Homo sapiens: one gene and its partner. The protein of the gene in region 1 interacts with the protein of each later gene in a biochemical or structural test. Each region holds a gene or a part of one and is shown on either strand. Other genes may lie near its edges. The genes, in order: RAI14 and FEZ1.

Region 1 (3,222 bases):
TGAGGTGGCAGTGTCTACCAAAACCCTCAGCAAAAGCTATCTGGGGTCTCAGTTGCAAATGTGAGTCCAGCAGCCAGAACACCAAGCATCATAGAGCCAAGGCAGCACTGGTAACTAAGAAGATCAGCATTGCTGGAAAATAAAGCCCCCGTCTTCCCAGTGGAGGACCACATCATCCCTCATTCCTCAATAAATGATGGGAGGGTGGGGCATGGTGGCTCATGCGTGTAATCTCAGCACTTTGGGAGGCCGAAGCGGGTGGATTGCTTGAGCTCAGGAGTTTGAGACCAGCCTGGGCAACATGGCAAAGCCCCATCTCTACAAAAATACAAAAATTTGCCAGGTACGGTGGTGGGTACCTGTAATCCCACCTACTTGGGAGGCTAAGGTGGGAGGATCACTTGAGCCCGTGGGTCGAGGCTGCAGTGAGGCGAGATTATGCCATTACACTCCAGCCTGCATGACAGAGTGAGGCCCTGCTTTAAAAGATGGGGCTGTTCCTGGTAAACAGGGCACAAGGCTCCTGACACAGAATCCAAAGCAATGCAAAAGGCATATTCAGGCTTTCCAGTGAAAAGGATTCTCCTCTAATTCTTGTTCATTCTCCTAGTTAAATGATGGGAGTTCTGTCAACATCTGCTGCCGTATTTCTTTAGGATGTCCAGATACTTCAAGGGGCATAACCATACCTGCACAGCATACAGAAGATGCATTCTGTAAACTGATATGACCTCCTGGTGTTGTTTCTTGCATTCCTAGAAAGGGAATATTTCACATTATTAATGAGCTTAAGAGATCTTTAAAGAACAAAAACAAAAAACTATGAGAAAGCTGCAGCCAAATGCTACCCAAGTGGTCCCCTCCACTTTATGCTAGCACTGGAAGCTTCTAAAATTGTTGTGGCCTTACTGGCTTGTGTATTTCTGAATACTTGTCAATCATCTTAGGGAAAAAAGTCTTGGTATGTCAACTCTAGAAAAAACTGTATAAAAAGGAGTTATTATCACCCCACATTTGGTTTTAAAAATATATGCTCTTTGGGCGGCTGAGGTGGGTGGATCACTTGAGGTCAGGAGTTTGAGACCAGCCTGGACAACATGGTGAAACCCCGTCTCTACTAAAAATACAAAAATTAGCCAGGCGTAGTAGTCAGTACCTGTAATCCCAGCTACTCAGGAGGCTGAGGCAAGAGAATCGCTTGAACCTAGGAGGCAGAGGTTGTAGTGAGCCGAGATCACGCCACTGCACTCCAGCGTGGGTGACAGAGCAAAACTCTGTCTCAAAATATATATATATATGTGTGTGTGTATGTGTGTGTGTGTGTATGTGTGTCTATATATGTGTGTATATATGTATATATGTGTGTGTATATATGTACATATACTTATGCAAATACAGCTACATTAAATGTAAATACTGCAAGGAAATATATCAAATGTAAAAAGTGATTATCTCAGAGTTATTGAATTATGGAAAATTTTTATTTATAGGAACTTGTTAGAGTTTTCTTTATTTTTCAACTTTTCTACAATGACCAAATATGTACTAATTTAATTTTTAAAGCCTATTATTTTTAAGGGAATTATTGATTACCCACTATATGGCCAGCATTGTATAATCCTTGGGGAGCTCAATTATTTAGCTATCAGTGTACTAAGAAGGCAAAGAGGGTGGTGGCCCCAATCTCCAGTGGTTCCTCAATACAGCCGCTGATGCTTCTATTTCTCCTTGTTGAGCTATTACTCCAGTTCCTCTCAGTGGCTGTTTCAAGGGTCTTATCTCTGAAACTCTTGTTCTAAGAACCTGTCCTCCTAATTCATCATGAAAATTGAGACCATCATATATGGATTACTTCAAAAATGTACAAAAGTCCATAATACCCATTCTTCCTTCCCCCCATCAGTGTCAGAGTATGAGGTATCTTTCCTGTTATTAAGGGACATTTTAAAACCCGTCCTTTAAGTTCACATCATAAGAAGGCACATTTGGCATTTCTCTGTGTTGTTCCCTCCCCACCTTTCAGCAACCTCTACTCAATTATTTATGATTTTATCTTCTGATCTGGCTTCCTTTCTATCACTGCCTCTGTCATCATTCGCTTGGCTTTGATATCTGTGTGAATGATCCATCTAACACCTGGACCTCTCAGTTCCTCAACTTCAGCTTTAATAACATGCTCCTCTTCAGTTCAGCAACTCCTGTCATGGTTGTAGCCCTGCCTCTATCATTACCACCTCTGAAATCTCAACTGAAAGCATCCCACACCCTAACCACCACTTCCCATCTTTCCAGCAAGCTTGCTTCAGGCTTCCCCCAACCCCTACTGCGACTGGTTAGCCCCACCAGATACCTATCTACTTACTTACTTCTCTAGCAGCCAGTCTACTGCGGTCCAGATTCTACCCTCCTCCCCACTCCACTGGAATGGTTCTCACCAAGGTTCCCAAAAGCCAGCTAGTGCCATATGTCAGTCCTTGCTAAGTAACAACATATTCTTACTCAGGCCTTCAAGACTCAGCACAAGTGTAACTCCCGTAGGAACCTTTTCATGACTCAGCAAGATTGGGTAGACACATTTCCTTTGTATGCCCACGGTATGCTGGGCATCTCTTTGCTGATAACTTATATAGAGTATAAACTCCTTGAGGGCAGGGACTGAGTCTTACTCATTTTATATCATCAGCCCCATGTATAATACTGATGTAAGAGCTCAACAAACACATGTTGCGTAATTATAAGAATTACTGTATAAACCAATAGCACTTTATCTACAAGTCTGTAATACCATTTTATCAGGAGAAGAATGACCTGCAGAACACAGTAAAGAGCAGCTTCTCCTAAGTATCCACCATTTCTAGAGCTGTTTCCTCCAAAGCTAGCATTGAACTTTGTGGCCAGCCAGAGTAAGGACTGCAGAAACCTGAATTCACTACAGTTAGGTCTATTCCGAAGAAATCATCAAATCCATGTTCTGTTTGTATATGGAAGCTAGAGACAGTCCAGGACAGACTAACCCTGGACTTTAGGTAGAAAACGGAATGTACCCATGCCAACTCAAACCTTAACAGATATTGTGGTAAGCTAAATAATGGCTCTTGAAAGATGTCCACATCCTAATCCCCAGAACCTGTGAATGTTAAACTTTATATGGCAAAAGGCATCTTGCAGATGAAATTAAGGGTTTGAGATGGAGAGGGAGATTATCGTGGATTATCTAGGTGG
Region 2 (3,830 bases), on another chromosome or scaffold:
TTTCTTTCTTTCTTTCTTTCTTTCTTTCTTTCTTTCTTTCTTTCTTTCTTTCTTTCTTTTCTCTCTTTCTTTCTTTCTTTCTTTCTTGAGATGGAGTTTCGCTCTTGTTGCCCAGGCTGGAGTGCAATGGCATGATCTCGGCTCACTGCAACCTCTGCCTCTTGGGCTCAAGCGATTCTCCTGCCTCAGCCTCCCAAGTAGCTGGGATTACAGGCACCTGCCACCATGCTCAGCTAATTTTTTTTTTTTGTATTTTTAGTAGAGACAGGGTTTTGCCATGTTGGCCAGGCTGGTCTTGAACTCCTGACCTCAGGTGATCCACGCACCTCAGCCTCCCAAAGTGCTGGGATTACAGGCATGAGCCACTGTGCCCAGCCCCCACATCACATTTCTATGTAAGTTAGCTATCCTGGTTTTCCTAGAATTATTTTTAACTTTTTTTTTTTTTTTTTTAAAGATAGGGTCTCACTTTGTCACCCAGGCTGGCATACAGTAGTGTGATCATAGCTCACTATAGCCTCAAACTCATGGGCTCAACCAATCCTCCTGCCTCAGCCTCTCCAGTTGCTGGGATTACAGGTGTGAGCCACCGTGCCCAGCTTTGATTTTTCTAGAATGATTGATATTTATTGGATGCTTTCTATATTCTGCACATTGTACTTAACACTTCAAAGATGATCTCATTTAGTCCAAAAAGTAATCTTCAAGGGAAGCACTGTTTTAAACTCCATTTTATAGATGATGAAATTGAGGCACAGTGAGGTTGATAACTTGCCCAAAGTCTCCCAACTAGGAGTGACAGGACCAGGACAGGAACCCAAAGCCTATGCTCTTAGCCATCACAGAGTACTGCCTTAATCAACACAAATCCCTGGGCTGTGAAAACTGTTTTACTCTCTACTGCATTCTGCCATCTTTTCTAATCTCACTTTTTTGTTGCTCAGGGATTCTTAATCTTTTTTGCACTATGACCTCCTTTGGTGGTATGGAGAAGCCTGTGGGCTCCTTCTCCAAATAATGTTTTTAAATGCATAAAATAAAATACTTAGTCTTGTAAAGGAAACCAATTTCATTGAAATATAGTTACCTTCAAAGAGCCTGCAGGGGTCTATGTACTGAAGATGAAGAACCCCTGACTGGCAATTACTTGTGTTTGCTTTAGAGCTGTGTTGTCCCTTGCGGTAGCCACAGGCCACATTTGACTGTTGAGCACTTGCAATGTGGCTAGTCCAAAGTGAGATGTACTGTAAATGGAAAATATACACTGGATTTCAAAGGGCTTAGTATAAAAAAAGAATAAAAACTGCCTCATTAGTTTTTTTGTGGATTACATTTTGAAATGGTAACACTTTGGATATATTGGATTAAATAAACATATTACTTCAATCAAAATGATTAATTAAATTATTGATTTATTAAAAATAACTCCTAAAGATGTTAACTCTGTACCAACACCTTCCTTATAACAAATGAGGAAATCAGGACCAATGATGCTTGTCACTCAGCCAGCCATTGGCAGATCTGTTGGCTCTCGAGCCTGTCTTCTTTCCAAGATATGGTACTACTTGTATATATTTTTGTATTCAAAGGTCCTATCATGTTGCCTTTGCAAACTGTAAATGCTCCAAATATGTTTTAAAGCAACGGTAATCAACTTAATCCCAGCAAAATCCCGGTACAAACTGGCAGTGTTCTTGCCTGGCATGTCCTTTGCCTTGCTTATTTAGAGTTTTAGTTTTGTAGGTAGAGATGGAGAATGGGCACTCCTAGGGCAAAATCCATGAATTTTGCTGTCTGGTTCCCCTCAGGAAGCGCCTCCAATTTGAGCACCTAACTATATCAATAACCCTATAGACCGAAGAGAAAAGCTTGGTAGCCTTTCTGTTGAGCGTGTAGAGAAGGGTATGATAGTCAGCAATGCTTGTGCTGCCTGAAACTGAAAATGGAAAACTGTATGTGGGAGATAGATCATTTTTTCAACGAGCACATATTGATTGACTGCCTAGCCACAGGGTAGGCAGTGTATATTTGGAGCCAGGGAAGATATCCAGAGGATTTCTGTGTCCTCGAGGAATTTAAGTTAAAATTGAATGGGGCCCAGATGTACACACAGATGGATAAATCACAGTTGGAAGCAGTGCATGAAGATGGCCCGATGAGGGGTAGAGGTCCCACAGTTGGTGGGAACTGAAGGGAGTTCTGTGTGTGCAGCGTTCCAGGGTGCAGTGCCCAAGATGGTTATGGAGTATGGCTTTGGAGCACATGGGTAGTTGGGTCTGTTTCTTACAGGATACAGGATAATAGATCATTTAGTCTATTCCTCTGCTCCTAGGCATATGCTCTATGTGTGGGAAAACCTTGGGTGCTTGTCTGGGCACGGTGGCTCATGCCTGTAATCCCAGAACTTTGGGAGGCTGAGGCAGGTAGATCACCTGAGGTCAGGAGTTCGAGACCAGCCTGGCCAACATGGTGAAACCCCATCTCTACTAATAATACAAAAATTAGCTGGGTGTGGTGGCACACGCAGCTACTTGGGAGGCCAAGGCATGAGGATTGGTGGAACCCAGAGGTGTAGGTTGCAGTGAGCTGAGATCACACCACTGCACTCCAGCCTGGGCCACAGAGTGAAGCTATGTCTCAAAAGCGAAACGAAACAAAAACAACTCAGGCATTTATTGGAAGGTCTCTATTGATGTTTTATTAGTTTTTTTAAAAAAATAAAAATAGAGATGGGACCTTACTATGTTGCCCAGGCTGGTCTTGAACTCCTGAGTGAGCTCAAATGATCCTCCCACCTCAACCTCCCAAAGTGCTGGGATTACAAGCATGAGCCACCACATCCAGCCAATGTTTTATTAGTTTCTACTATTTATTGATAAGGGTAGTAATATCTAGGTATACAAACCCTTATCCAAAACCCCTGGGGCCAGGCATTTGGAATTCAGATTATTTCAGATTTTGGAAAGTAGTAATAGAGTGTACATTCCGCATTTCATCCAGTGGGATCTGGGATAGCAATCTTTGTAATTAAAAAGTTAATATTTCTGCAGCAAAACACACAAAATGGGATAAATTAAAGCCATGAACAGCTTTATATTCATGTTGGTCATGTTTAGTTGCCAGATGAGTTTAGATCATGTCACATTTTGCTGCCAAACAAGTCATGGAGAATTTTCAGCTTTCAGATCACATAGTTAAGGATATGGATCTGTGGTAATAGTAATAGTAATAAAAATAATAATACTAAAACACCAACAGAAAGTATTCAATAATATTGGCACTTATTATCTTCCAGGTACTGTTTTAAGCACTCACCTGTGTTTACTCCTTTAGTCTTCTAACAGCCCTTTGAGGTGGGTTCAGTATTATATCTGTCTTGAGAAGAATAAGAAGCACAGAGCAATTAATCACTTGCCCAAGGTCACAGCTGGTAGGACAGAACAGAATGCAAACCTAGACGATCTTGTCCAGGAGCTTCGTACTTAACCAGTGCCTTGTTTTTTGGAGTAGGGAATTGGAAGCAGGTGTGTCTCTAAAGTTAACTCTATTATTTAGATTAGCCTGGTCTAAACTCACATTACGCTGTTCATTTCTTTTAGATAAACTCATCCTGAAAGTCGCTGTTGTTCTCCTGCTGAGCAAGAATGGAGGCCCCACTGGTGAGTCTGGATGAAGAGTTTGAGGACCTTCGACCCTCCTGCTCGGAGGACCCGGAGGAGAAGCCCCAGTGTTTCTATGGTTCATCTCCCCACCATCTCGAGGACCCCTCCCTCTCCGAGCTTGAGAATTTTTCTTCCGAAATAATCAGCTTCAAGTCCATGGAGGACCTC

What was found.
Region 2: the proteins of RAI14 (region 1) and FEZ1 form a complex in vitro, tested with the Homo sapiens proteins (one study listed by BioGRID).

The regions. Positions count from the first base shown.
Region 1 is NC_000005.10:34,827,265-34,830,486, reverse strand, and holds part of RAI14 (ankycorbin), read right to left. Parts: intron 756-3,222; coding exon 690-755; intron 1-689. UniProt on the Homo sapiens protein: Plays a role in actin regulation at the ectoplasmic specialization, a type of cell junction specific to testis. Important for establishment of sperm polarity and normal spermatid adhesion.
Region 2 is NC_000011.10:125,489,592-125,493,421, reverse strand, and holds part of FEZ1 (fasciculation and elongation protein zeta-1), read left to right. Parts: intron 1-3,599; 5' UTR 3,600-3,644; coding exon 3,645-3,830. UniProt on the Homo sapiens protein: May be involved in axonal outgrowth as component of the network of molecules that regulate cellular morphology and axon guidance machinery.